Linked DNA regions of Homo sapiens. The gene in region 2 interacts genetically with the main gene of each other region. Each region holds a gene or a part of one and is shown on either strand. Other genes may lie near its edges.

The links.
Region 1: changes in GEMIN5 (region 2) and THOC2 together harm fitness less than expected from each alone (positive genetic interaction), as found in Homo sapiens cells (one large-scale study listed by BioGRID).
Region 3: changes in GEMIN5 (region 2) and RTF1 together harm fitness less than expected from each alone (positive genetic interaction), as found in Homo sapiens cells (one large-scale study listed by BioGRID).
Region 4: changes in GEMIN5 (region 2) and MTA1 together harm fitness less than expected from each alone (positive genetic interaction), as found in Homo sapiens cells (one large-scale study listed by BioGRID).
Region 5: changes in GEMIN5 (region 2) and PBRM1 together harm fitness less than expected from each alone (positive genetic interaction), as found in Homo sapiens cells (one large-scale study listed by BioGRID).

The regions. Positions count from the first base shown.
Region 1 is NC_000023.11:123,624,071-123,630,037, reverse strand, and holds part of THOC2 (THO complex subunit 2), read left to right. Parts: intron 1-2,069; coding exon 2,070-2,345; intron 2,346-3,375; coding exon 3,376-3,517; intron 3,518-3,968; coding exon 3,969-4,126; intron 4,127-5,368; coding exon 5,369-5,497; intron 5,498-5,846; coding exon 5,847-5,967. UniProt on the Homo sapiens protein: Component of the THO subcomplex of the TREX complex which is thought to couple mRNA transcription, processing and nuclear export, and which specifically associates with spliced mRNA and not with unspliced pre-mRNA.
Region 2 is NC_000005.10:154,926,746-154,932,712, reverse strand, and holds part of GEMIN5 (gem-associated protein 5), read left to right. Parts: intron 1-462; coding exon 463-614; intron 615-1,135; coding exon 1,136-1,255; intron 1,256-4,053; coding exon 4,054-4,186; intron 4,187-5,162; coding exon 5,163-5,328; intron 5,329-5,967. UniProt on the Homo sapiens protein: The SMN complex catalyzes the assembly of small nuclear ribonucleoproteins (snRNPs), the building blocks of the spliceosome, and thereby plays an important role in the splicing of cellular pre-mRNAs.
Region 3 is NC_000015.10:41,468,268-41,474,234, forward strand, and holds part of RTF1 (RNA polymerase-associated protein RTF1 homolog), read left to right. Parts: intron 1-1,989; coding exon 1,990-2,125; intron 2,126-2,904; coding exon 2,905-3,082; intron 3,083-5,967. UniProt on the Homo sapiens protein: Component of the PAF1 complex (PAF1C) which has multiple functions during transcription by RNA polymerase II and is implicated in regulation of development and maintenance of embryonic stem cell pluripotency.
Region 4 is NC_000014.9:105,460,375-105,466,341, forward strand, and holds part of MTA1 (metastasis-associated protein MTA1), read left to right. Parts: coding exon 1-83; intron 84-390; coding exon 391-579; intron 580-2,809; coding exon 2,810-2,884; intron 2,885-3,118; coding exon 3,119-3,177; intron 3,178-3,657; coding exon 3,658-3,773; intron 3,774-4,041; coding exon 4,042-4,193; intron 4,194-4,299; coding exon 4,300-4,489; intron 4,490-4,719; coding exon 4,720-4,809; intron 4,810-5,967. UniProt on the Homo sapiens protein: Transcriptional coregulator which can act as both a transcriptional corepressor and coactivator. Acts as a component of the histone deacetylase NuRD complex which participates in the remodeling of chromatin.
Region 5 is NC_000003.12:52,603,456-52,609,422, reverse strand, and holds part of PBRM1 (protein polybromo-1), read left to right. Parts: coding exon 1-110; intron 111-5,690; coding exon 5,691-5,902; intron 5,903-5,967. UniProt on the Homo sapiens protein: Involved in transcriptional activation and repression of select genes by chromatin remodeling (alteration of DNA-nucleosome topology). Required for the stability of the SWI/SNF chromatin remodeling complex SWI/SNF-B (PBAF).

The DNA.
Region 1 (5,967 bases), on a different chromosome or scaffold from region 2:
CAGAGGACTGGGGAGATTGGAGCTATCATGTAACCCTCTCATACCTATAAACTAATTTTTAGTTTTAATTGTTGAGGTTGTGGTCCACCTTGAGACACAGGTCTGAAAGATAGGCTTTTAACCTAGTTCATATTCTAGATCTTGCCCAGAACAGGTAATTAGGCTGTCTTTTATGCAGATAATGTCAGCCCTATTTTATCCCGTTTTGTTAGAACCTTAGCAGAAGTCATTCTGCTCATCTAGATTCATATTAGTTACCTTCAATAAGACCTGTCCTCTAAATTAAAAAACACTCTCTGTTTTCCCAACTGCTATTCCCTCAGGTTTCTGATGCAATTGGGACTCCTTTTTCGTAACTAATGTTCTTTGTAGCTTTGTCACTTACGTGGTCTCAGTGGTTGTCAGCATGCTCTCTAAAATGGGGATAACAGAGCATAAATCTTCCCACTTCTAGAACAATTGTAAAATTCTAGAACAATTGTAAAATTGAGCACTCAGGAAGGAAGGCAGGTAACTGAGCTGTAAGGAGCTGAGACTCTTTTGCCTATCACAGTGTAGAACTGGAAGCAGAACCTTTGATCATCTCGTTTTGGGTTACGTGTTTAGCACAAATAGAATGATTTAAGTGATTTTCTAACGTAAGGAAGTAACTAGTTTTAGGACTTCCTTTAGGTTCGTATGAAGGGTGATACCTAACTTAAACAAAATTTTCTGGATGAGAGCTCTTTCATCCTAAAGAGACTGAAGGATGTGAAACAATAGCAGCAACTCTGTGTTATCTTCATATATATGTGTGTGTGTGTGTGTGTGTGTGTGTGTGTGTGTGTGTGTTCATGTATAATATATATGTTCATATATATGTTATCTTCATATATATAGAATATATAGAAAAAATATATATATTTTTGTGTGTGTATATATATGTATAATATATTTGGCATACACATCTCTGCAGCCCCTCCCATTGTACTAACAATTTTTTTTCCTCATACAATTAAGAATATGGCATTCCTCTGTTTTTTCCCCCAAATTAGGATAAACCAGTCAAACGAAAGAAGCTGCAGCATCAGTTCTCACATGCTTTAAACTTCAATATACCACAGCTTTTCACAGAAAAATTTATTTGGCTTAGCAGTAGAGTAACCAGTTGGTCCTGGTTTGCCTGGGATGTTCCCAGTTTTAGCACTGAAGTCTTAAATCCTCAGAAATCCCTGAATCCCCAGCAAACCCTGACAATTGGTCACCCTACTTAGCAGTCTTAAAACAAATTTCTCATAACTTTTCTTAGTGTTGATCCAGCTTTTTTTTTTTTTTTAATTTTTATTTTTTGAGACAGTCTCCTTCTGTCATCCAGTCTGGAGTGAAGGGGCATGATCTCAGCTCACTGCAACTTCTGCCTCTGGGGTTCAAGTGATCCTCTCACCTCAGCCTCCCAAGTAGCTGGGATTACAGGCCTGCGCCACCACGCCTGGCTAATTTTTTGTAGAGATGGGGTTTTGACATGCTGGCCAGGCTGGTCTCAAACTCCTGATCTCAAGTGATCTGCCCGCCTTGGTCTCTTGATCCAGCTTTTTAATTGACAAATTTTAACAGTTGGTAGGGTCTGCATGTAGTGATACTACATTCTGTCCTAGTTGGCTATTACTAGTTCCATTCTTCCTCTTTTCTCATGTTAAGACCTTCTATTTGTTCCCTTGAATATCTCAAAAGCAGGACTGGAAACCCTACATGTTCAATCCCTGATACAGCAGCAAGAGGGAGTAGGGTGGGGGAATGAAAGAGGAGAACATGCATATACCCTGTTCACTTTACTCAACAGGTCAGATTAGATAAGAACCCTCTGAGAATCTCCTAGTTGGCACACAGTACTAAAGACTGGAATAGCTTCCAGAGATGATTTATCTTAAAATAAACGTTGTTCATAAGAAACTAGAATTTCTACAACAGTTTTGAGATTGGTCATCTTTTGATTCTTTAGAAGGGAATATAGATTTTTATGCCATGAAAGTCAAAGCTATAAATTATGTTGTGTGTGTATGTATGTATGTATTTTTACTTTTTATCTACAGTCAAAGTATGATGAACTTAAAAAATCAGAAAAGGGAAGTAAACAGCAACATAAAGTTCATAAGTACATTACATCATGTGAGATGGTGATGGCGCCTGTCCATGAAGCAGTGGTCTCCTTACATGTTTCCAAAGTCTGGGATGACATCAGCCCTCAATTCTATGCTACATTCTGGTCATTGACAATGTATGACCTTGCAGTTCCACACACCAGCTATGAACGAGAAGTCAATAAACTTAAAGTCCAGATGAAAGCAATTGATGACAATCAGGAAATGGTAGGTTTTTGTTCTAGTAGTTCAAGTGCAATAACTTTATGGTATTCAATGTTACCTATATTTTGAAATTGTTTTAGCTCTGGTTCCTTAAAACAGTGATCTTGTTGCTATATAATATTTTCTTAAATGGGGTTTAATAGTTACTTCTGAGTGGGGGGCCAGGAGTTTGGTGACTAGGTGGAGGTTATGATTAATCAAAAATTATTTGAGTGTCCTTTTCTACTGACGACTATGCTAGTAACTTAAAGTGATTCATGTGACTCTAATAGCAAGAGCAGTAGTTCTCAAGAGGAGAGTTCTTTAGGAGAAGACTATTGAGAAGCCGAGTCTTGAAATGGACAGGCCTTGAAGGTAGATTAGGTTTGGAAATATGGAAGCAGATAGGGAGGTCACCATAGGGTTCCAGCAAAGACAGGAAGTAGATTGAGGTTTAGGGAGACCACTTTTACTGATTCACTTTCATGTAGTGAATGTACTTAGTGATTCATATGAATAGTTATGATGGGGCCAGATTATGTAGGCATTGGAAGTCAGGGAGAAAAGTAGACTTGGTAAAATTGAGAGCTATTTTAGATTCCTGAGCAGGATAGTAATGTAAAAAATGGTACTTAAAAAAGATTACTCATGACAGCAGTATGAAAGATGCTTTTTGACTAGCATTAGGCTAAAGACCAGCTAGGTGGCTTTTTGGGCAGTCTATTGTGAGAGCATAGACTGATGGAGGTAGTGGCAGTGTACAAGGCTTGTAAACCAGTCTTGATATAAAGGAGAGGGAAGAGTCAAAGATGACACCATGCCTGAGACTAATAGTGTCAGTGTTGCAAATGTAGCCTGTTCTGATGGTGTATGAAGATGCCATGACAGTGTTATGAGTGTGTTGAATGGAGATAAAAGTAGCACGTTCAAGTGGACCTATATTCATGTTAAAGTAGTTATAAACTATCAGCCTTTATCTCTTTAAACTTTTCAATTAAAAGAAGAAAGGTAATGTGCATATAGTTAGAAAAGTGTCTAATTGAATTCTTTGTAGCCCCCAAATAAAAAGAAAAAAGAGAAGGAGCGCTGTACTGCCCTTCAGGACAAGCTTCTTGAAGAAGAAAAGAAACAGATGGAACATGTACAGAGAGTTCTACAGAGATTGAAACTGGAAAAGGACAACTGGCTTTTAGCAAGTAAGTTGTTGGAATTGTTAGGTTCCTGATGCTGGTAAATTACAGAAAACAAAACATTATAACTTTAGAGGTGTTAAAGTGTATTATGTTTGTATTTCAACTCAGTGTTCCCTATCCCATTCTTTGGTTATTTGTTAATGCAGAATCAACTTCATGTTCACTGGAGGAACTGATATAGTTTGCTGGTGAAGTTAATTAACTTTTAACTACATATTGGCAGCTTGTCATTCAGCTTTTCTGTATAAAACATATTTCTGGAGAAATCATAGAAAAAAAGGTCCACATAGTAAAAATGATAATCATGACCAGGCATGACATTTGGTTACAAACTATAAATAGTTTGTGGTTTATAGTATTCTCTTCACTAAAGGTAATATGTTGTCATGTTTAGTGGCTTTGAGGCACTTGGGGAAGAAGTTTACCACTTAATATATTCTTCCTTTATTTTTAGAATCTACCAAAAATGAGACCATCACAAAATTTCTACAGCTGTGTATATTTCCTCGATGTATTTTTTCAGCAATTGATGCTGTTTACTGTGCTCGTTTTGTTGAATTGGTACATCAACAGAAAACTCCAAATTTTTCCACACTTCTTTGCTATGATCGAGTAAGTTTTTATTGCAACCTTTAAAAAGTTCTCACACAAAGATAGCTAACATTATAATTTATAGAGGTATTATTGTGTGTTTAGTTAAAAAGCATGAACTCAAGAACCAAGTGTCTGAACTTGAATCCTAGCTCTACTACTTTCTAGCTGTATGATCTTTGGCAAGTTATTTAACCTCTCTGTGCCTGTTTTCTTATCTGTAAAGCATAAGTACCTGCTTCATAAGATTGTTGTGAGGATTAAATGAATCACTACACATAAAAAGTACCTGATATGTAATAGGCACTCAAGGTTAAACTATTAACTAAGTATTTGAGTTTACGTGTTGTATCATAATAGGTAGAACTCTCTTCTCCATTCTTAACCTTCACTTCTCAAAAAAAAAAAAAAAGACAAAAAAGTTTACACCTTCACACACATATAAAAGCAGGGAAGCTTTTCAGTATGGTCATATGCACATTTTGCATTTAGCTTTTTTCTTATTACTACATTTTGTGGTTTAAAAACATAATGTGGCCGGGTGCGGTGGCTCATGCCTGTAATCCCAGTACTTCGGGAGGCCGAGGCGGGTGGATCACAAGGTCAGGAGATCGAGACCATCCTGGCTAACATGGTGAAACCCCGTCTCTACTAAAAAAAAAAATACAAAAAAATTAGCCGGGTGTGGTGGTGGGTGCCTGTAGTCCCAGCTACTCAGGAGGCTGAGGCAGGAGAATGGTGTGAACCTGAGACGCGGAGCTTGCAGTGAGCCTAGATCACACCACGGCCCTCCAGCCTGGGTGACAGAGTAAGACTCAGTCTCAAAACAAAACAAAACAAAACAAAAAACATAATGTATGTTCCAGTATGTCAGCTGCATATTTTTAATTTCTATCAGCATTTCCTCTGCTTACTCTCCCCGTAAACCCAGTAATATGTATGGCTAAGTGGTTAAGAAACTATTATGTAATAAAAAAAAAACAACTTATTATGTAATAATAATGATAAATTTTTTTTTCCTTGTCACTGTAAATCAGCTTTCTTTATAAAAGTTCTTGTTTTGGGTGGTTGTTTTATGAATGCATTATTTCCCCACAAAAGCCAAAATCTCCAAAGTTCTCTGCAGTGTCATTATATAAAGGGAATATACATTTTGACTAGGCTTACCTGTTTATTATGACTTGCTGTAAGAGAATCTTCTAATATTTTTAACTGATTTTGACCTTGATTTGTTTATATTTTTTAAACATTTTTCTCCTGTAGGTTTTCTCTGACATAATTTACACAGTTGCAAGCTGTACTGAAAATGAAGCCAGTCGATACGGAAGGTTTCTTTGCTGCATGTTAGAGACTGTGACCAGGTGGCATAGTGATAGAGCCACATATGAAAAGGTATGACTAATAAAAACCCTTATATTTTACCCATGTATATAATGACCACATCCATTAATATCTAGATAGTTGAGTTTTAAAAGAGAAGCTGAGTTTAAGATTCAGTTGTAAAACTGTGTTTATAAGCACAATTAATTTGTTATTAAAATGTGCTATGTACTTTTTTATTCTATCTCAAACTGACATTCCAAATTAGTATCTTTGTATAAGTTGAACTTTTTGTGACTACCTATCCAAATACGCATGATGTTTTTACACGGAAACATTGATCTAGTCTACTTAAGTTTCAATTTCTGCTATTTTGTGGATCATAATTTTTCTTTAAAAGTGACAAACATTGTTTCCTTAGGAATGTGGAAACTATCCAGGATTCCTTACCATATTACGGGCAACTGGATTTGATGGTGGAAATAAGGCTGATCAATTAGACTATGAAAATTTTCGACATGTTGTACATAAATGGCATTACA
Region 2 (5,967 bases):
GTACCTTTAGTCCCAGCTACTCAGTCCCAGGCTGAGGTGGGAGGATTGCTTGAGCCTGGGAAGTCAAGGCTGCAGTAAGTGGTGATTGTGCCACTGCACTCCAGCCTGGGCAACAGAGAAGGAAAAAAGAAGAGTTGCTGCACCCTTGCAAAAACTATGAAAATTCCCTTAGAACAAAATCATGGTCCACTGTGAGTTTTGTACCAGGCAACATACATAGTATTACCTAGTGCCAAGAGTTTGATCATAGAGAGAAGGGTTTTAACAAAACCAGGAGGCATAAGGTGAGCACTTTAAAAAAAGGAAAAAGCAAAATTATTTTTTGTCCTCTTCCCTCCTCCGCCACCCCAAATGCACCTAACTTTAAGGAATGCGCCAATGGTAACTCCAAGCCAAAATGTTTACTAGAGACTCTGTTCTGTCTTCATTTTTTTAGTAATATTTCTAACTCTTGTTTTTTAGCTACAAGGATGGCATAGTGGTGATAATTGACATCAGTAAGAAAGGAGAAGTTATTCATAGGCTTCGAGGCCATGATGATGAAATCCACTCCATAGCCTGGTGTCCCCTGCCTGGTGAAGATTGTTTATCTATAAACCAAGAGGAAACTTCAGGTAGAGATGGTTTAAGGGAAAGTTAAGTCCACTTGAGACCTGAAGAACAGAACGGGTACAATTATATCATTTTTTATTTATTATTTATTTTTGGAGACGGAGTTTTGCTTTTGTTGCCTAGGCTGGAGCGTGATCTCGGCTCACCGCAACCTCCGCCTCCCGGGTTCAAGCGATTCTCCTGCCTCAGCCTCCCGAGTAGCCGGGATTACAGGCATGCGCCACCACGCCCAGCTAATTTTGTATTTTTAGTAGAGACAGGTTTCTCCATGTTGGTCAGGCTGGTCTTGAACTCCCGACCTCAGGTGATCCACCTGCCTCAGCCTCCCAAAATGCTGGGATTACAGGCGTGAGCCACTGCACCAGGCCGAATTATATCATTTTAATTATACCTAAAACTTCAAATTTTATAGTTCAGACCTATGAAAGAGATAGCTAAGTTTTGGAAACTCTTGCAAACTAATTTTTTTATATTAGTGCGTGTTTAATGTAAATTAAAAACAAAATTGCCACCTATCTCATAGAAGAAGCTGAAATTACCAACGGGAATGCTGTAGCACAAGCTCCAGTAACAAAAGGTTGCTACTTAGCCACTGGAAGCAAAGATCAAACCATTCGAATCTGGAGCTGTTCTAGAGGCCGAGGTAAGATTGATCTTTCTTTTGTGATGTAACCTATGTTGATCTGGTGGAAGTAGAGGGTTTTCTGTTCTTATTGTCCTGAGGGTGTGTCATCTATTTGAGAGCAGTTCTTCACTTTTTGGTCTAGAATTCTGCTTCCTCATTTGAGCCTGGCCTAGACTCTCTATTCTCTCAACATCTGGCCTTAGAGATTAGTATTTCCCATGCATTCCAGGAGAAGACAAGGATCTCTTGCTTTATAGAAGGGTCAGTGTTTGGCATGGAGAGCAGAATATTTGTAATAAAAACAGGAATATTAGAACATGATATGGCCTAAGCCAGGAGAATGGAAAATATCTTAAGAGTTAGAGCTTTTAATGCACAAATGCAGAATAAATTACATACACCCAGCATAGAATTATGTGTAAAAGCTCATTTTATCCAAATTATAGAGCCCCTCAATCATTTAGCTTTCCCAAATGTCTCTTTGAACAGAACTTTTATCTTTAAGTTTAAAAATTGAGAGAAACTCTAGGCATAATGAATATTTATAGTATATCATAGAATATAACCTTTATAGTAAAAATCTTGTTTTTCTCTTTCTAGCGGGCTTCTCTTCTTTCTTCATTTTATTTTATTTTTTTTGGCAGTTTTTTAAGCTGTGGTGGAAAATATAACATTTGCCATCTTTATCACTTTTAAGTGTACATTTAAGTGGTATGAAGTACACTCTAAAGTTGTGCAACTGTCACAGCCACCCATCTCCAGAATTCTACTCTCCATTTCCCCCTCCCCCAGGCCCTGGCAACCATCATTCTGCTTTCAGCTCTATGATTTTGACTACTCTGAGTATTTCCTTTGAGTGAAGTTATACATATGATATGTCTTTTTGTGATTGGCTTATTTCACTTAGCATATATCCCCGAGGTTCATTGATGTTGGTACCGTATGTCAGCATATCCTTCCTTTCTAAGGCTGAATAATATTCCATTGTGTGTATGTCCCACATTTTACTTACCCACTCATCCACTTGTTATAAATAAAATTTCGGTGTGGCAAAAGAAATAGCACTCAAATATAAAACTTTCTTTTTAATTCTCAGCAAGGCAATGTACTTCTATAGAAGGGTGCGCCCTTACAGATGGAGCAATGGTGAGCGCACACTTGGACAACGGAGGGGAGGGGTTCTTATCCCTGACGCATGTGGCCCCTGCTGCTGTGTCGTTCCCCTATCAGCTAGGGTTAGACCGCACAGGCTAAACTAATTCTGATTCGCTGATTTAAAGAGAGTGCCGGGGTAAGTGGTTTGATGGGAGAAAATGGTTATGGCAGGAAAAATGGTTATGGCAGAGCAGGAAATCAGAATGAGTCAGGGTGGAGCAGGTAATCGGAATGAGTCAGGATGGAGCAGGTAATCGAAAAAGGTTGCTTTTACGAGGAAGTTAAGTTTAAAAACAGAAGCCAAATAATTGAACATACTGACATATTGATTCTTTGAAGAGAAATTTAGAACTCATATCTCACACACTGATGGACATTTGGGTTGCTTCCATGTTTTACTATTCTAAATAATATGCTATGAGCATGGATGTACTTTCTACTTTATTTGAAACCATGATAGTTTTATCATATTTGCCCAAATGCATGTAAAGCAAGTAGCACAGCACTTGGAATGTCATCCAGGCTTCATCAGTGGTAGGTAACTAATAGTATAATTTGGGAAGACAGAACTTTTTTAAGGTTTACAGGCTACTTCTTGGCATACTGCAGCTAAAACTCCAAGTGGGAACATAAGGCTGAGGATCCCTCCAGGAGGGTAACCTCTAGACTTAGAGGTGTCTGGTAAAATGGCCTTCAATTGTGGTTGTGCAGCAGAATCAGCTGGAGAGTCTTTGGAAAAATGTAGGTTCTTGTACCCCACCTCAGATCTACTGAGTCCGAATCTCTAGGAGTTAGGCCCTGGCGTATGTATTTTTTAAAGTTCCACCTGTGGTTCCGATGCACAATACAGCTTAAAAAACGGTGATTAGAAGCATGTCGGGTGGAGGTACTCCCCACCCACAGCACGTTCACTGCCAAATTTTTCTTTGTTGGATTTCTTGCCGACTAGAAATAGTAATCCCAACCTCTGTCCTTTTCACTTTGGAGTTATGTCACTGCAATACTTTTGGGTACACAACTCAGCTGTGTTACTAGCTGGGTTCTCAGTTTTACTTGGGAACTCATTTTCCCAGACGAAAAAATACTCTTTTTCTTTTGAGGCAGAGTCTCTCTCTGTCGCCCAGGCTGGAGTGCAGTGGCACGATCTCAGCTCACTGCAAGCTCCACCTCCTGGGTTCATGCCATTCTCCTGCCTCAGCCTCCCGAGTAGCTGGGACTACAGGTGCCTGCCACCACGCCCGGCTAATTTTTTTGTATTTTTAGTAGAGACAGGGTTTCACCATGTTAGCCAGGATGGTCTCGATCTCCTGACCTCGTGATCCTCCCGCCTCGGCCTCTCAAAGTGCTGGGATTACAGGCATGAGCCACCGCGCCCGGCCAAAAAAAAAAAATACTCTTAATACGTTGAGGTTGTCAAGATAGCCTGTCGAAGCTTGTTTGACCTAAATGTAGCTAGACTAGTATTAACCAGTATTTATAGTGATTAAAATTATAACCATAATAATGGTTAAAATTGTAACCATTGGAAAATGAGATCTGAATTCTAAGTAGCCAAACTAACAAGCTTTTACAGCGCAGACTGTGTGTTATGAACCACCGGTGACTTCATGCATGTAGTTTCACTGTCTTGAGTGCCCACTGGCCTTCTTTTTAATCTGCAGGGGTGATGATTTTGAAATTGCCCTTTCTGAAGAGAAGAGGAGGGGGTATAGACCCAACTGTTAAAGAGCGCCTTTGGTTGACACTCCATTGGCCCAGCAATCAACCAACACAGCTGGTATCTAGCTGTTTTGGGTAAGTCTTTTTTGGTCATGCTTTCTCAGATATATTTTGTTTTTCTATTTGGCCTCAAGTCCTCCTAGGATGGAGAAAGTAATGGCCAAGGCTTGTATTATGATGGGCCATTTGAAATGGAAAAATTATGAGACTAATGCCTGTGCTATCTACTAACAGAGCTGTAAAAAGATCACATAAGTATAGTCCGGCAGTTAGGAATATGGACTCTGAAGTCAGAACTAAATTTCAGAATCACTTTGTCACTTACTGCCTTGTATTCCTGAGCAAGACCCTTTACTTTTCTGAGCTTCAGTCACTTCAAGTGTAGAAAGGGGAGATGGTTATAATATTTTCTCTTAGGTTGGATGGCTATGCCCATTCAGTAAACAAAGTTCATTGACTACCTACTTCTAGTGGCTGGAGATAAATCTGTTTAAAGGGTAGTCCAATATACTCACATGGTTCAAGAAGAACGAAAGTATATAATAAACTGTCTTTCTGTCTTCCCTAGCTACTTGGTTCCCCTTTCTGTGATTAAATTTTTTTTTTTTTTTGAAACAGGGTCTTGCTCTGTCACCCAGGCTGGAGTGCAGTGGTGCAAACACAGCTCACTGCAGCCTCAACCTCCTGGGCTCAAGCAATTCTCCCACCTCAGCCTCCCAAGTAACTGGGACCATAGATGTGCACCACCATGCCCAACTAATTTTTTTAATTGTTTGTAGGGACGGTCTCACTTTGTTGCCCAGGCTGGTCTTGAGATCGGGGCTTCAAGCAATCCTCCTGCCTTGGCCTCCTAGAATGCTGAGATTACAGATGTGAACTACTGCACCCAGCCTTCCCAGAGATATTTTGTGCATATTTTCAGCATATGCAATTTTTCTCTCCTTAAACGACAACAAATCATTTTGCAGCTATGAGCCCAGACTCTGTCTCAACAGTCACTTGTTTTCAGATCGTTTGTAAAAGAACTAATGCTTATGTTTTTCCTTCACAGAGGTGAACTGTTGCAATGGGATCTCACTCAATCTTGGAGACGGAAATACACCCTCTTCAGTGCCTCATCAGAAGGGCAAAATCATTCAAGAATTGTGTTTAATTTATGTCCTTTACAAACAGAGGATGACAAACAGCTATTACTTTCTACATCAATGGATAGAGATGTAAGAATGCTTATTTTCACTCAGCATTGTAGAGCAGCAGTTTACAACTTGGGTGGGATGAGAGGGCTTTTTCAAAGCACCTGTCAAGTCGTAATACTCCACCCCTGACTCCAATTTCAGAGTTACTGCTACAGATCAGCACTGAATATATCAATAGCTCACATGTAAGGAGAATGTGAAGACCCACCAAAATAGTTTTTTGTTAAAGCAGACATAATAAAGAAGGGTAGTTTTGCCCAGGGAAGGATGTATTAGGTCAAGCTTGTCCAACCCACAGCTCAGGATGGTTTTAAGTTCATCAGCTGTTGTTAGTGTTAGTGTTTTTTTTTTTTCTGAGACAGAGTCTTGCTCTGTCTCCCAGGCTGGAGTGCAGTGGTGTGATCTTGGCTCACTGCAAGCTCCACCTCCCCAGTTTTACGCCATTCTCCTGCCTCAGCCTCTCGAGTAGCTAGGACTACAGGCGTGTATCACCTACGCCCAGCTAATTTTTTGTGTGTGTTTTTAGTAGAGATGGAGTTTCACTGTGTTGGCCAGGATGGCCTCGATCTCCTGACCTCGTGATCTGCCTGCCTCAGCCTCCCAAAGTGCTGGGATTACAGGCGTGAGCCACGGCGCCTGGCCTAGTGTTAGTGTACTTTT
Region 3 (5,967 bases), on a different chromosome or scaffold from region 2:
TTCGAATCTGTCATTCTTTCCTCATTCATTATCTAGCCTGCTTCTATAAAGAGAAACCTTTTTTTTTTGAGACGGAGTCTCGCTCTGTCGCCCAGGTTGGAGTGCAGTGGCGCGATCTCGGCTCACTGCAAGCTCCGCCTCCTGGGTTCACACCATTCTCCTGCCTCAGCCTCCTGAGTAGCTGGGACTACAGGCACCTGCCACCACGCCCAGCTAATTTTTTGTATTTTTAGTAGAGAAGGGGTTTCACCATGTTAGCCAGGATGGTCTTGATCTCCTGACCTTGTGATCCGCCCGCCTCGGCCTCCCAAAGTGCTGGGATTACAGGTGTGAGCCACCGCACCCGGCCTAAAGAGAAACTTCTAATCAGCTATTTAGTTACCCCCCAGGCACATTTTGAACAGGAAAGGCAAGATAAATGCTTGATTAATTTTCCTTTCGTTTACCAGTTTTTGAAAGAATGAGATAGTTCCTGGCAAGGTACAGTGGCTCACATGTGTAATTCAAGACCAGCCTGGGCAACATAGTGAGACCCTGTTTCTGCAATATTTTAAAGAGAGAGAGAGAGATAGTTTTTAGCAACTTCCAAAGATGACTGATGGGTTTTATTTATTTTGAATATCCTTGTGAACTCATCATTTTTAACGTGCTTTATGTGTTTTAATCCATTGCAGTTATTTTTCCTTCCTTCCATCCATCTTTTTCTCTCTCTCTTTTTTGAGACAGGATCTCTCTCTGTTACTCAGTCTGGAGTGCAGTGGCGCGATCTCGGCTCATTGCAACCTTCACCTCCCGGGTTCAAGCGATTCTCCCACCTCAGCCTCTTGAGTAGCTGAGACTACATGCGTGCACCACCACCTAATTTTGTTTTGTATTTTTAGTAGAGATGGGGTTTAGCCATGTTGGCCAGGGTGGTCTTGAACTCCTGACCTTAAGTGATCCGCCTTGCCTTGGCCTCCCAAAGTGCATGAGCCAACACTCCCAGCCTAAAATTTTTTTATATTATTCTTTTTTCTTTTTAAATCGTAAGTACACAGATTAACCTGCCATCTTAGATTAATGGTAGCATATTATACACAGTTTTCTCTCTCTTTTTTTTTTAGCCACCACTCCTGGTTTGTTTTTTGTATTTTTGGTAGAGATGCAGATTCACCATGTTGCCCAGGCTGGTCCCAAACCCCTGAGCTCAAGTGATCTACCCACCTCGACCTCCCAAAGTGCTGGGATTACAGGCATGAGTCACCATGCCTGGCCACGTTCCTTTTTTTTTTTTTGAGATGGAGTCTCGCTCTGTTGCCCAGGCTGGAGTGCAGTGGTATACAGTCTTGGCTCACTGCAACCTCCGCCTCCCGGGTTCAAGCGATTCTCCTGCCTCAGCCTCCCAAGTAGCTGGGATAACAGGTGCCGGCCACAATGCCTGGCTAATTTTTGTATTTTAGTAGAGACAGAGTTTCACCATGTTGACCAAGCTGGTCTCGAACTCCTGACCTCAAGTGATCCACCTGCCTCTGCCTCCCAAAGTGCTGAGATTACAGGCGTAAGCCACCGCACCCGTCCCCACGTTCCTTTTTTATAGCTGCATAGTAGTTCATTGGTAGATGTACCAGTGGTGATTTAGCCACTCTCCTATTTTAAATTTTCCTCAGAAGCTTCTGAAGTCATCATGAGTCTTTCCCCCTCTTTCCTCCCCATAGTCAAGTGTCTTGAGTGCCATAAAAGAGAACTGTCAGTAGTGTTGGTGACCCTTTCTGCCCACCTAGTATCAATCTTCCAGCCCTTTTTTCATCTGCTGGGGCCTGACATTTGGCACCTGAATAATTTTAACTCTGTGTTTTAACTCATTTCTGTATATACCCCAAGTTAGCACAATCCAGTCTAGAGAGGACGGAGCTGTGTATTTGAGTCCTCTTCCATTTCCAGTTCTTTTTCAAGGATGAATTCATTTTCTTGTTGAGAAAACCTAGGTAAACATCTCTTCTTTCTTTCTAGCTGAGCTCCTTGCCAAAAAACAGCCATTAAAAACCAGTGAGGTCTACTCTGATGATGAAGAGGAGGAAGAGGATGACAAATCCAGTGAAAAGTCAGACCGCTCATCACGAACATCATCGTCTGATGAAGAAGAGGAGTAAGCTCTTGTACATTTTGGTCTAGTAGGCAGGATAGGTGGGTTTTTGAGGAAGAGCTTGGTATCGTTTCCAAAATCTCCCTGGTTGGGCCACTAACTCTGACATGGTTACCTTTGGTTTGCTGAACTGAGTTCCCCAGCACGTCAGCCCATTCATTTGGCTGCTAGCCTGTACGCTTAGACATTTCACCTGGGCCTGGAAGGTAGGAACTGACTTCGTGTCATTCTCAGATTGGCCTGGAGCTTTCATTCATTTTCTTTTTTTTTTTTTTTTTTTTTTTTTTGAGACGGAGTCTCGCTCTGTCGCCCAGGCTGGAGTGCAGTGGCAGGATCTCGGCTCACTGCAAGCTCCGCCTCCCGGGTTCACGCCATTCTCTTGCCTCAGCCTCCCAAGTAGCTGGGACTATAGGCGCCCGCCACTACGCCCGGCTAATTTTTTGTATTTTTAATAGAGACAGGGTTTCACTGTTTTAGCCGGGATGGTCTCGATCTCCTGACCTCGTGATCCGCCCGCCTCGGCCTCCCAAAGTGCTGGGATTACAGGCTCATTCATTTTCTTACTCTGATGGGTTATCTAAGATGGCAGCCTCATTTGAAACAGCTCATACTACTGGTCAGGAACAGGATCCTATTACAAGTCTTTGCTGGTGCTTCATTTACTTCTCCTCCTAGGCCAGTCACATGTACTTTGGTTAAGTTTTGAGGAGTTGATATTATTTTTCTGTCTTGTTCTGTTTTTATGATGAACATTTTTTCCAGTGCCCCTTTGTTCCTCTTAGGAAAGAAGAGATCCCTCCCAAATCCCAACCAGTTTCCTTACCTGAAGAATTGAATCGGGTTCGATTATCACGGCATAAGCTAGAACGCTGGTGTCACATGCCCTTCTTTGCTAAAACTGTCACAGGATGTTTTGTGCGGATTGGCATCGGAAACCACAACAGCAAACCAGTTTACCGGGTTGGTATTTCTTCCCTTGGACAATTGTCCATGCTTTCAGTATAATTAGTCTCAACTGAGGGCAGGAGCTACTGAAAAAATCGATCACTCTTCTCTCAGCATTTGATGGAAAGTAGACTCCAAGTGGGATCCCCATAGAGCAGTGAGGTGCCCAGGAATCCTTCATGACTTGTTGCCAAGAGGAGGACTTGGAGCCCAAGGGCCTGGAAGATTTGGATGTAGAATAATTTTCTCTATTCTCCCTTCAGTATAAAAGGGAGAAGGGAGGCATCTATGAAGTGTTCATTGGGAGTTACATAATCTAAAAGATTTGTTCATTTGAAAAACCAATGAATGAAAAGTTTCATGTTGCATACCAAGTGACTTCTACACCAGGGAATTGTATTGAGGTTAAAAAAAACCCTCCAGACTAATACAGGTTATTATGTAGGTTCCAGCACTGCTTCTGTGGTCTAGGTGGACTGGGCACAGTGGCTTACTCCTGTAATCCCAACACTTTGGGATTTATTTATTTATTTATTTATATTTTATTTTACCATTATTATTATTTTTTTATTTTTATTTTTTGAGACGGAGTCTCATTCTGTCACCCAGGCTGGAGTGCAATGGCGTGGTCTTGGCTCACTGCAACCTCCGCCTCCCGGGTTCAAGTGATTCTCCCGCCTCAGCCTCCCAAGTAGCTGGGACTACAGGCGCATGCCACCACACCTGGCTAATTTTTGTATTTTTAGTAGAGACGGGGTTTCACCATGTTGGCGAGGCTGGTCTTGAACTCTTGACCTTGTGATCCACCTGCCTCAGCCTCCCAAAGTGCTGGCGTGAGCCACCGCACCTGGCCTATTTTTATTTTTATTTATTTGTTGTTTTTTTTTTTCAGACAGAGTTTCGCTTTTGTCGCCCAGGCTGGAGTGCAATGGCACGATCTTGGCTCACTGCAACCTCCGCCTCCTGGGTTCAAGTAATTCCCCTGCCTCAGCCTCCCGAGTAGCTAGTGTTACAGGCACCCGCCACCGTGCCTGGCTACTGTTTGTATTTTTAGTAGAGATGGGGTTTCACCATGTTGGCCAGGCTGGTCTTGAACTCCTGACCTCAGGTGATCCACCTGTCTCGGCCTCCCAAAGTGCTGGGATTATTGACATGAGCCACTGAGCCCGGCCTTATTTTTAATTTTTTGTTTTTTATTTTTGGAGACAGAGTCTTACCCCGTTGCCCAGGCTGGAGTGCAGTGGCACGCTCTTGGCTCACTGCAGCCTCTGCCTCCTGGGTTCAAGCGATTCTCATGCCTCAGCCTCCAAGTAGCTGGGACTACAGGCATGCGCCACCACGCCTGGCTGATTTTTTTTTAGACTGAGTCTCTTTTTTTTTTTTTTTAGACGGAGTCTCGCTATGTGGCCCAGGCTGGAGTTCAGTGGCACGATCTCGGCTCACTGCAAACTCTGGCTCCCAGGTTCACGCCATTCTCCTGTCTCAGCCTCCCCAGTAGCTGGGACTACAGGCGCCCGCAACCACGCCTGGTTAATTTTTTGTATTTTTAGTGGAGATGGGGTTTCACCGTGTTAGCCAGGATGGTCTTGATCTCCTAACCTCGTGATCCGCCCGCCTCGGCCTCCCAAAGTGCTGGGATTACAGGCGTGAGCCACCGCACCCGGCCTCACTTTGGGATTTAAAAAAAAATTTTTGTAGCAACAGCCTCTCTCTGTTTCTTATGCTGGTCTCAAACTCCGGGCCTCAAGTGATGTTCTGGCCTCAGCCTCCTAAAGTGCTTGGTGTTGGTTTTTTGTTTTGTTTTGTTTTGTTTTTTTGAGACGGAGTCTCGCCCTGTCATCCAGGCTGGAGTGCAGTGGCGCGATCTTGGCTTACTGCAAGCTCCCACTCCTGGGTTCACGCCATTCTCCTGCCTCAGCCTCCCGAGTAGCTGGGACTACAGGCGCCCACCACCATGCCAGCTAATTTTTTGTATTTTTAGTAGAGACGGGGTTTCACCTTGTTAGCCAGGATGGTCTCGATCTCCTGACTTCGTGATCTGCCTTCCTTGGCCTCCCAAAATGCTGGGATTACAGGTGTGAGCCACCACGCCCGGCCCAGGTGTTGGGTTTTTTTTTTTTTTTTGAGACAGTGTCTTAACCATGTTGCCCAGGCTAATCCGGAACTCCTGGACTCAAGCCATCTTCCTGCCTCGGTTTTCGAAAGTGCTAGGTTTGCAGGTATGAGACACTGTGCCCAGCCTGTTTGAGATAGGATCTCGCCCTGTTGCCCAGGCTAGCATGCAGCGGTGTGATCAGAGCTCATTGCAACCTTGAACTCCTGGACTCAAACGATCCTCCTACAACAGCCTCTTGAGTAGCTAGGACTGTAGGTGCACACCACTATGCCCAACTAATTTTTTTTTTCTTTTTTGTAGAGACTGGGTCTCGGCTGGGCGCAGTGGCTCACGCCTGTAATCCCAGTACTTTGGGAGGCAGGTGGATCACGAGGTCAGGAGATCGAGACCATCCTGGCTAACATGGTGAAACCCCTCTCTACTAAAAATACAAAAAATTAGCTTGGCGTGGTGGCATGTGCCTGTAGTCCCGGCTACTTGGGCGGCTGAGGCAGGAGAATCACTTGAACCAGGGAGGCAGAGGTTGCAGTGAGCCAAAATCATGCCATTGCACTCCAGCCTGGGCGACAGAGCAAGACTTTGTCTCAAAAACAAAAAACAAAAAAAAAGAGAGACTGGGTCTCTCTGTGTTGCTGAGGTTGGTCTCAAATTCCTGGCTTCAAGTAATCCTCCTACCTCAGCCTCCCAAAGTGCTGGAATTACAGGCCTGAACCTCGGCGCCCAGCCTGGATTGTTTTTGTTTTGTTTTATTCTTGTCTGGTTTTTATGTGTGTTATCCCCTTGT
Region 4 (5,967 bases), on a different chromosome or scaffold from region 2:
CACGGGCCCTGGACTGCAGCAGCTCCGTCCGACAGCCCAGCCTGCACATGAGCGCCGCAGCTGCCTCCCGAGACATCACCCTGGTAAGTGGGCCCAGGGCGGGACAGGTGAGACCTGGGGTGGCCCATGGCCCAGAGTGGCTGCGCCCTTCTTCCTACCAGGGCCCAGCACCTGCCCCAGGTATTCAGGACCCCTGCAGAGGTGCTGTCCCACCTGGACTGGCCTTTCCTATCCACCCCAAACTCGGCCAGACTGTGCTGAGGGTGCAGGGAGGGTTGTGCTGCTGGGCCTGCAGTAGGGGATCCTTGAGGTACTGAGGGAGGGGGTACCGTGCCACAGGTGCAGGAAAAGCCACCTTGGCCCGGGTGACCCTGCTGTCTCCTGCCGCAGTTCCACGCCATGGATACTCTCCACAAGAACATCTACGACATCTCCAAGGCCATCTCGGCGCTGGTGCCGCAGGGCGGGCCCGTGCTCTGCAGGGACGAGATGGAGGAGTGGTCTGCATCAGAGGCCAACCTTTTCGAGGAAGCCCTGGAAAAATATGGGAAGGATTTCACGGACATTCAGCAAGATTTTGTGAGTACCGTGGGTGGCGATGGGGGAGTGGCTGGCCATGCCCATCTCCAGGTAGGCTGCGGGGGTGTGGGCTCCACATCCCACTCTGCCCTGAGGGAGCCTGTCCTGCACCCTGATTCCCTGTGCGGAGCTGCATGAGTTCTGTCTCAGCTGCGCTCGGCCGCCATAGTCCTTCCTGTCACACTGGTTCAGCAGACAGGCATGGGGGCGCTGGTGGGGCCTGGGCATAGAGAGCCATGCTCCTGCCACCATTGCGTGATGAGGATAAGGGTTGGCCCAGGTGACGGAGGCCAGGGTATCCTCACGGAGACTTTCCCTTCCTTGCTGCCCCCTCCAGCCCCAGGCTTGGTTTTGCTTTGTTTTTGACTAAGCTGAACCTCTTGACTCCTCATGTCCTTGTTTTCTGTCTCACGTGAGTTTAGCCCAGCAGCAGGCCTAGAGAGTCTTCATGGCGTGGGGTCTCCCTTCCCTGTACCTCCACCTCAGGACCCCCACCCTCCAACCGTCAGCCCTCCTAAAATACTTCTAAATTAATCTGTTAGAAGAGCATCCCTATGTGGGGGTGGTGGGGCCCCCAACCATCAGCCCTGGGGAGGTGGAGACTGTGGCAGGGCAGGGAGGAGCCCCAAAGGGGCCGGGACACAGCGGGGTGGCTAGTATCTGATGAAAGCACCATCCGGGCAGCAGCGCACAGGCCAGCGCAGCAGAGGCTGGAGACGCATCTGGAATTCGGAAGAAACAAACATGGGGTTGGGTAGGGTGCCTAGACCTGAAGAGGAGGAGGGACAGCAGCCAGCTGTGAGGCTCCTGAGGACGCATCTGCTGGGGGCAGGAGTGCAGCTTTGTGTGGGGGCCTCTGGCCAAGGGGAGAGCTTGGCCGGGCGGGAGGAGTCCCTGACTGTCCCTGGGGCCAGCGGCCTCTCCAAGGCGGATACGGATCTCTCCAGGCTTAAAAACAAACCAAGATGAGCAGAACATGTTCAGACAAGAGGACGAGGGCTAGAAACAAAATTCACCAACTAGGCTCAGACCAGGGCGGAATTTGAGGGAGACCCTGCTGCACATGGTTCCAGCGGAGGAGACCCCAGTGCTGAGCCCACGTGATGCCTAGCGAGGCAGCGCTCAGGGGACTGCGGCTGCGGGGCCATGCCCAGGCACGGTCTCGGGGGGCTGCGGCTGCGGGGCCCTGTCCAGGTGCGGGGATGGGAGGCTGCAGCTTCGGGGCTGTGTCGAGGGAGCAGGCCCCGCTCTCCTTCCTGCCAGATGCAGTGGACCAGACTGAGGAACTATCTGAACCCTTATTTAATAAGACAGGTTTCTTAAATCCATGCCACAGCCCGGGCGCAGTGGCTCATGCCTGTAATCCTAGCACTTTGGGAGGCCGAGGCAGGAGGATCATGAGGTCAGGAGATCAAGACCATCCTGGCCAACATGGTGAAACGCCATGTCTACTAAAAATACAAAAATTAGTCGGGCATGGTGGCAGGCTCCTGTAGTCCCAGCTACTCGGGAGACAGAGGCAGGAGAATCACTTGAACCCCCGGGGGTGGAAGTTGCTGTGAGCCGAGATCGCACCACTGCACTCCAGCCTGGGCGACAGTGCGAGACTCTGTCTCAAAAACAAAAATGGCTGAGATGGCCGGGCATGGTGGCTTATGCCTATAATCCCATTTGGGAGGCCGAAGTGGGTGGACCACTTGAGGTCAGGAGTTCGAGACCGGCCTGGCCAACATGGTGAAACCACGTCTGTACTAAAAATACAAAAATTAGCCGGGTGTGTTGAGAGGTGCCTGTAGTCCCAGCTACTCAGGAGACAGAGGCAGGAGAATTGCTTGAACCCGGGAGGCAGAGGTTGCAGCGAGCCGAGATTGTACTACTGCACTCCAGCCTGGGTGACAGAGCGAGACTCCGTCTCAAAAACAAACAAAAAAAAGGCTGAGATGGAGGCTGGGTTGTCAGTGCCACCTCGGCAAGATCTCGACCTTGACCTTGTGCCAGCTCCTCTTCCCCTGGCGTCACTGTGTTTTGGCATCTGGCGGGGGGACCTGCTTCATCAGCTGCCCTCTGCACCTGCCTGCCAGCAGGGGCCTGGCCTCCGTGCACCAAGCACACCTCGCCCTCTGGCCTCCCGCCCCCTCTGTGGCCTTCTGGCCGCAGCCCTGCCCCTGCCTGCATGGTGTGCCTGCCTCCTGCCCCTTCCTGCTTGTGTGACACGCCTCCTCCCACCCAGCTCCCGTGGAAGTCGCTGACCAGCATCATTGAGTACTACTACATGTGGAAGACCACCGACAGATACGTGCAGCAGGTGAGCCCGCCCGCCACTCAGTGCCCGGGGTGTGCCGCCTCCCCGTCCTGCGCCCCATCCTCTCCCAGCAGGTGGGCGTGCACTGCTGCAGCAGGAGGGGAAGGAAGACTCCTGAGTCCCTGGCCCGGCTGTCCTCTCCGTGGTGCTCTCCTCTCCGTAGCCTCCAGCCTGTCTGCACTGCAGCCCCAACCTGGGCCTAGCCTGCTGACCTCTGACCTTCTCTTTTGTTTTAAGAAACGCTTGAAAGCAGCTGAAGCTGAGAGCAAGTTAAAGCAAGTTTATATTCCCAACTAGTAAGTGTGCCCTCACAGCCGTCGTCCTCGTGGCCCCGGGGGCCAGGGAGGGTGGGCACAGGGTGCTGGGGCCAGGCGGGTCCCAAGGAAACTCAAGCTCAGAGGCTGGGAAAGTTGGGGCAGCCCCCGGGAGGGCGGCCCAGGGCTGGGGGGTTCTGGCTGCAGACGCAGTGGCCATGTCTCTGTCGTCCTGGCCTCCTGGTCAGTAAGGGGGCATTGGGATTCCAGCCCACACCGCCAGGGTTCAGTCCCTGAGCTGGGCTCCATGCTAGGGGGAGCACGGGGGCCTGGAGAACGGCTCAGACCTCAGCAGTGGCTCCCAGGAACTGAAAGGGGAGAAAGGAAGATCCCTGCCGAGGCCGAGGGGTGCGAGGACGTGGTTCTGGACAAGGGGTGGTCAGCCGCGGTGCCTGCTGGGCACATGGGCCCTCGAGGTTTGTGCTCCTGCAACTCCTCTCGTCTCTCCTTTCCCTCTTTAAGTAACAAGCCAAATCCGAACCAAATCAGCGTCAACAACGTCAAGGCCGGTGTGGTGAACGGCACGGGGGCGCCGGGCCAGAGCCCTGGGGCTGGCCGGGCCTGCGAGAGCTGTTACAGTAAGTGCCCTGGATGGCCGGGGGCACACCGCACGCCCGCCTGTGGGCCGTGGTGCCTGCGTTGGCCCTGAGGGCTCCAGCATGGCCCAGCCTGCAAGGGGCCCACTGACGATGGGGGCTGCGTCCCAGGGGTGTGGTTGGGAGAGCCTCGGGGAACGTGTGGGGGTGCCTGGCGGGTGGGGGCGGCCGGCGTGGGGGTGGCGGGGAATACTCTGACATCGCTGGTTCTGCTTAAGAATCCGTCTATTTCCAACTTTGTTGTCCGTAGCCACACAGTCTTACCAGTGGTATTCTTGGGGTCCCCCTAACATGCAGTGTCGTCTCTGCGCATCTTGTTGGACATATTGGAAGAAATATGGTGGCTTGAAAATGCCAACCCGGTTAGATGGAGAGAGGCCAGGACCAAACCGCAGTAACATGGTAAGGGGGGGGACACCCGCCCTGCCTGCCATGAGCCTGTCGGCCACGCGGGTCCTCGGCCCCCGGTCATGGCGCTGTGTTGGGGCGGTTGCGCCCCCTTCCGCAGAGTCCCCACGGCCTCCCAGCCCGGAGCAGCGGGAGCCCCAAGTTTGCCATGAAGACCAGGCAGGCTTTCTATCTGCACACGACGAAGCTGACGCGGATCGCCCGGCGCCTGTGCCGTGAGATCCTGCGCCCGTGGCACGCTGCGCGGCACCCCTACCTGCCCATCAACAGCGCGGCCATCAAGGCCGAGTGTGAGTCACCCCAACGCCCCGCTTACTCTGTTCCTGCGGGTGGTGGGGAGAGAGCAGCAACCTTGGGGCCCAGCCTGTAGCCCCACTGGGAGTTCTGATCTCAGGGAGCCCCACGTCCTCCTCGGTGCTGACATGGCCGAGCCCAGTGAGGGCTCCCAGGTCAAGGCGCAGGCAGGGTCCCGTGCTCCCCTGGGGGTGCCCCACCCCTCACACCGTGTGGTACCCCGCAGGCACGGCGCGGCTGCCCGAAGCCTCCCAGAGCCCGCTGGTGCTGAAGCAGGCGGTACGCAAGCCGCTGGAAGCCGTGCTTCGGTATCTTGGTGAGCAGCCAGGCGTGCTGGGGGGCTCCCAATGCTGCCTGCAGGCAGCTTCTCACCCAAGCTCATGCACTGGTGCTCCCAGCCTTCTCTAGCTGGGAGCTCCTGGACAGCCCCCCAGGGCCTGGAACTGTCCTTTTGGGGTACTCTGCACCGTGCCAGGCTCAGGCAGACCCACTGGGACCCAGGCTGCTCCCTGCTCCTGGGGTCGTGATGGGGCCCAGTGCGGAGTAGCGGCCGCCCTGTCTTCTGCGGGGCCAGCCTCCTCAAGGCACACCCGGGGGCTTCCCTGCCAGTCTCGCTACCCTGTTCCCTGTGTTCTGATCGTCCCTGGGGCCTGAGGGTCTGGGGTTTAGGTGGTGCACACCCCTGCCTGTAATACCATTAAGGCAGCGTCGTACCTGCTGCCTGCAGGGAGTATACTTCCTGAGCCACGCCCACTCCACAGGGGCAGCACTCAGGCCTCTGCACGCCCTCGGCAGGGGGAGGAGCAGCCTCAGGCGGCAGGGGGTTCCTTTGCCTTTGAGCATCTGAGGACACCCGAGAACCTCAGCCGGCTACCCTGGCCCAGCTGGAAGCAGCTTGGTGGCTGGGCCAGACATTTGTGGTGGCGGTGGGGGGCCTCCTCCATTTGCTGGGCTCGAGTGGGCTTGTGCATCTGCCCTCCCGACACAGGGTGACTGTCCTGAGAAGGACATTCCAGAGTCATGAGCCAAGTGTGCTCTGAGATTCAAGTGGCTTTGGCATTGCTCCCTGTTTGGGGTTGTGGCCCCTGTCCTGTGGGAAGAGGTGGCTGGTGTCAGGGCTGGTCCTCAGCAGCTGTGTCCCTGGCCAGGCTGGCTGGATGGTTGGTTCGCTGTCTGACGAGCAGCCAGCCCTCCACCAGCAGCTCCGGGGGCCTGGACGTGGGGGCTGTTTAATAGGCGTGCTGTGCTCACGGGCCTGTGTATGGATCCTGTTGTCCCGGGGCTGAGGGGCCTGGCCCCCGCCAGGTGGTCTCCCTGCTCTCTGGAAGCCCTGGGGTGCGGGACTGGCCCGGGCACACGCCTTGCCGAGGGCTTCTGGGCTTCTGGTTCTGTGGTGACCTCCCCACTTCCAGCCCAGTCAGGATGGGGCCTCGGGTGGGGGCCGCATGGGGCTTAGTTCCTGGGGGTATCCCGG
Region 5 (5,967 bases), on a different chromosome or scaffold from region 2:
CTTACATTTGACATAATTAGGAAGAATGTTGAAAATAATCGCTACCGTCGGCTTGATTTATTTCAAGAGCATATGTTTGAAGTATTGGAACGAGCAAGAAGGATGAATCGGTATGTTTTCAAAGCCATTTTTATTTTGAGGATATGTGCTATTTAATACAAAACAGATGAAAGAATATTGCTTTGATGTACTATTTCCACTTACATACATGATTTGTAGTTGGTAGCATGCTATTCTGAATTCTAATCAGCCAGAACTTCTTAAGAGTGAGTATATTCTGTGGGGGAGAGAAGGCACACCACTAAGTCATCTAGTTTAAGGCCAGTGAGGAGGAAGACAAAATTGAAAATCTCTTGAAAAGCATAAACTTAAAATACAGCCTTTCATAGAATGTGTTTTTTAAAAAGATAAATGTTTCTAATTGGAAATAGTAACAGCGTTTTTCTTTTAAGGTTTGGCTTCAGTGCACGAATGCTTTAAATAAAATAGCTCTAAGGTGTTGTCCTGAGGTTAGACTGATAGAAATTTGATCACCATTTTAAGTACCTCAGAGGGTTTCTTTTTTTTTTTTAATCTCAGGTTTCTCACCTTAAGAGCTTGCTGAAGACATTAAATGTTCTAAAAGAAGCAATCAAATTTAGATTTACTTTAAACTTAAATTTCCTTCTAATTTTTATCTGTGATATATCGTTGCTACATGTCAATAGCAGACTTGACTATTAAATTCAGCAATTACAGTGTATTTTATATGTGCACTTAGAGACAGTTGGAAAAATATAAAAAAAAAAAAGATACAAACCTTACCTTCCTGGAGCTTACAGCCTATCATGTTTAGAACTAGACCTTCAGGCAGTGTAATGCCAGCTGGGGAATCTATGAAATCAGAATTTGCTCTGAACCTTTAAAGAAAAGCAAGTAGTAATGTTTGCTTTCAGTGTCTTTGCAAATAAAAGAAAAAAAACATAGTAACATTTGCTGCTTGTGTTAAGCACCAGCTCTTCGTAAAGCACCATGCTAAGCACTTTATGAAGGCAATCTCTAACCCTTATGATAGCCATTCTAGATAAGTGATAATCTTTTCAGTTTGCATGTGAAAGAATTAGAGGCATAGGCAGAGAAAAGTTACCCATAGTCTTACAACTAGTAAATGATGTGACTTGTCTTGCTCTCCACTGCAGAGGGCTACTCCTGAGCCAGTTACCAGGACAAGTCATGGAGCACGGCCATAGATGATAAGCCTTGAGCTCTGTGCTCTAAAAGCTTGAAGTCTGATGGATGGGCCAGGACTTACGCTTAAGGGAAAAATAATTCCACACATGAGACAACATGCCACAACCTTATATTTAGTAAAGATGGTGATGTAAGGAACTCTGTGGGCCACAGTTCTCCTTAAAAGGCATGGGATGATAGGTAGGGTTCAAATGAATAGGCCAGAGGATATTTCAAATAAGATGAATGTTATGAGCAAAGAAATGGAGTTAGGAAATGAATATGATATGTTTAAGAGACAGGGATAGAGTTGGGGCCAGTTTGGTGAGGCCCATGTGTGACACTTTTAAGAAATGGTCCTTAATAATATGGTTCTTCAGCAATTGAGTAGAAATAAAGAGAAGGATGGAGGGACATCTTGCAGTCAAAAACTCTTGGAGTTACTCATTTATTCAACACATATTTATTGAGAGGCTACTTAATGAGCATATTCTAGATGCATGTAATACACCAGTGGGCAAAACAAACTCTGCTTTCATGTAGCTTAGACTTCTTTCTGTTCTTGTTCTTGGCTTAAGTAGTCCTTAAGTCTAATACCCCTCCCTTCCTCTCCTCCCTGCTTAGCCCCATTACATCTTGGTGTTAGTTCTGTGAGTCTTTCAATGAGTATTTGTCTTCTAGATTATTAGGAACTTCGTTTATGTCTTATAGATGAAATGTTTATTTTAAGAATTAAGATTTGTATCTCTAGGAAATTAGCTCTTTTCATTCTCCCATTGTTGACATGGTTGTTTTTTGCTTTTGAGGCCTGGAAGATAGAGTCCAAGGTGTATTTTTATGAGATAGTGATGCACACAGTTTTACCCTCATGCCCAGAGCTTTGTTGAAAAACAAAAGGGATCCCTGGTAATTTAGTAGTTAGGAAAAATTTTTTAAAGAAAAACATACGGGGAGCCATTCTTAACTTTGTGAACAAAGATAGTATTGTGATTGCTTATAGTACTTATTAAGAATAAGTACTTAATAAGAATTGATGGAGATGCATCAATTTAGTGAATGATAAACTATGCCTTTATCTACTATATTATCAGTAACAAAGCTAGGCATCCCAGAAATATTAGTTCATAAATTCAATGAAGTCTACATACCGTAGATTTCCATGTTGATCTCTAAGAGTCTTCATGCTTCATCACCATTTACCCCTACCCCTACCCACCACTGCTACCCAACATCACCTAGGACTTCACAGGCTAAAATAGAAGGAATCTGAACAGTGAGACGTAACAAGAGAAAAATTCACTCAGGTGACAATAGTTTGTCCATCAACAGTATTTAGTAACAGCACAGTGCTGACTCATGCCAGTTGGCTGCTGGCTTTCCTAAACTGCTGGCAGTATTCCCAGACTAAACACTCTGATCCCCTTGCAGGTAAAAGAGACCTGTGGGAAGATGAACAAGGGAAGCATTAAGAGCCTCCTGTATTCTTAATTATTTCCTTTTGCTGAATGTCTGCCTTATATAAAAAGATTACCAATTGAGGGGAATTTAGAGTTCTTTTTCCAGCTTGCGTTTATGTTCCTGCACATTCAATGAATACCTGACCTCGTAGACTAATAAATTCTTTATAATGCTTTGAATAAACAAAAGCATATACTAGGTGTTTAGTGACTCTTGTACAGAATGTTCATTTCTAAACCATGCGATATGATGGAATTATGATCTGCCCTTTTAGTATACCATGAAAGGTATTTACAAAAATTTTACAAAAATTTTTTACTTTTAATTTACAGAAATTTTCACTTTTTATACTTAAAATTGTACACTATTATAAAATGAACTTTAATTTCAAGTGAACAGAATTCAAATATCTTCATTCAGAAAACAAACATAAAATTATGTTTTAGGGGCCAGGTACAGTGGCTCACACCTGTAATCCCAGCACTTTTGGAGCCCAAGGTGGGAGGATGGCTTGCACTCAGGAGCTTGAGACCAGTCTGGACAATATAGCAAGACCTTCCTTAGCTCTACTTAAAATAAAATTTAAAAAATCAGCCAAGCTTGGTGACATATGCCTATAGTCCCAGCTACTCGAGAGGTTGAGGTGGGAGGATTGCTTGAGCCAGGAGATTGAGACTGTAGTGAGCCATGATCGTGCCACTGTACTCCAGCCTGGGCAGCAGAGTGAGACTGTGTCTCAAGAAGAAAAAAAAAGTGTTTCAGGGGTGTCTTCCCTTGGTAAGTTTTATTTTTATTGCTTTCCTACAAGTATTAGCATTTCTATGACCCCAAAAGATATTTAAAACCTTTCCAAGGCCGGACACAGTGGCTCACACCTGTAATCCCAGCACTTTGGGAGGCCACGGCGGGCGGATCACCTGAGGTCAGGAGTTCGAGACCAGCCTGGCCAACATGGTGAAGCCTCGTTTCTACTAAAAGTACAAAAATTAGCCAGGCATGGTGGTAGGTGCCTATAATCCCAGCTACTTGAGAGGCTGAGGCAGGAGAATCGCTTGAACCTGGGAGGCAGAGGTTGCAATGAGCTGAGACCGCACCACTGTACTCCAGCCTGGGCAACAAGAACGAAACTCCATCTCAAAAAAAAAAAAAAAAGAGACTTTCCGGAAACACCCATTTAGATTATTGATCGTGTCTTTTAATTGTTTGTCAGTTCACCTTTGCTGATGGGAGCAGCATTCTGGGGACCTCTCTGAAGTTTGATGCTCTAGTGGCATGTATCAGTAGGTGGCCTACTTGGCCACACTCCTCTGACCAGAATGTCTCTGTAACTGCTAAGACCTTTGTGGTTAGTTTTGTGAATAAGTTTTTAGACTCTGGTATTCTTAGTTAATAGAATTTGATTTATGCCAGCCAGGTGTGGTGGCTCACATCTGTAATTTAAGCACTTTGGAAGGCTGAAGAGGGAGGATCACTCGAGGCCAGGAGTTCGAGACCAGCCTGGGCAACACAGGGAGCACCCTGTTGCTACAAAAAATTTTAAAATTAGCCAGCCTGAGCCCAAGAAGTTGAGGCTATGGTGAGCTGTGATCACGCCACTGCACTCCAGTCTGGGTGACAGGGCAAGACCCAGCCTCAAAATAAAATGAAATAAAAACAATTGTATGTAAACCTTCCTCAGACCACAGTGGTACTAGAAACAGTAATAAAATTTCCTCCAGTCAAAATTCTAAAGTCTGAAGTTTATTTTGCCCACTCCCCACATTTTATTTATTTATTTATTTATTTATTTATTTATTTTGGGACAGAGTCTCACTCACTCTGTTGCCCAGACTAGAGTGCAGCGGCGCGATCTTGGCTCACTGCAACCTCCACCTCCCGGGTTCAAGTGATTGTCCTGCCTCAGCCTCCTGAGTAGCTGAGATTACATGTGTGCACCATCAGTTTTTGTATTTTCAGCAGAGACTGGGTTTCACCATTTTGGCCCACCTTGGCCTCCCAAAGTGCTGGGATTGTAGGTGTGAGCCACCACAACTGGCCTGTTTATTGATTTTTTTTTTTTTAACAGACAGGGTCTTGCTCTGTTGCCCAGAGTGGGAATGCAGCGGTGCCATCATAACTTACTGCACCCTTGAACTCCTGGGCTCAAGTGACCCTCCCGCCTCAGCTTCCCGGATAGCTAGGACTGCAAGTGTGTACCCCAATGCCAGGCTACTTTTTTGTTGAGACAGCGTCTTGCTGTGTTGCTTAGGCTGGTCTCAAACTCCTGGCCTTAAGCAGTCCTCCCGCCTCGGCCTCCCAAAGCATTGGGATTATAGGCATGAGCCACCATGCCTGGCCGCTTTATTTCATAAATGAGGAAGGAGACTCAGAAAAGTTCTGGGTATGACATACATAATCTTTTTTCCATCTTTCACTATGTTGCCTTTGCTGGTTCCCCAGAATTACACAGTTATTTCTGGGAAACTAAAATGAACATTAACTCTGAGGCCTGTAACCATTATAGAATACTTTCATGGCTTTGCTTTAGGTTCCGATATTCACAGGGTCTCACTAGCCTAGGCAACCATGATGTAGGACCAAAAGGAAGAAAATAGAGCCTATTATGTAACACATCGGTCTGCTATTAAGAGAAAGTAAAAATTCAAAGAATAGATACGAGTAAGTGTTGAACATATTGTGGAGCCTTGGTACAATTCTTGGTTCTGGCAGCCACCTTCCCCTGCCAGAATCGATTGATGCGTGTGCCATATATCTCCAAGAGAAAATACATGAGGCCTTTCGTTTTTCATGAGCTGTACAAGAAGTGAGCCTTGAAGTAAAGGAAAATGGTGGGCATGGGGCTTACCATGGTAAAATGACACTTTGGATTTTGTTCTAACAAACTTCGGAAAGATACTCTTCATAGACCTGTACAGAAATACCACTATATCAATTAAAGAAGCATTTAATAGAATTTAACATATAATTGAGGTGTTTAAAAGAAACAGCTTGTATGTCAATGGATACTCTTGATGCTGTTATAGGACAGATTCAGAAATATATGAAGATGCAGTAGAACTTCAGCAGTTTTTTATTAAAATTCGTGATGAACTCTGCAAAAATGGAGAGATTCTTCTTTCACCGGCACTCAGCTATACCACAAAACATTTGCATAATGATGTGGAGAAAGAGAGAAAGGAAAAATTGCCAAAAGAAATAGAGGAAGATAAACTAAAACGAGAAGAAGAAAAAAGAGGTTGGTTTCTTTTCATTTTATTGAATATGAAAAAATGCACTGTCTTCTAGGTGTTCTCATAATTA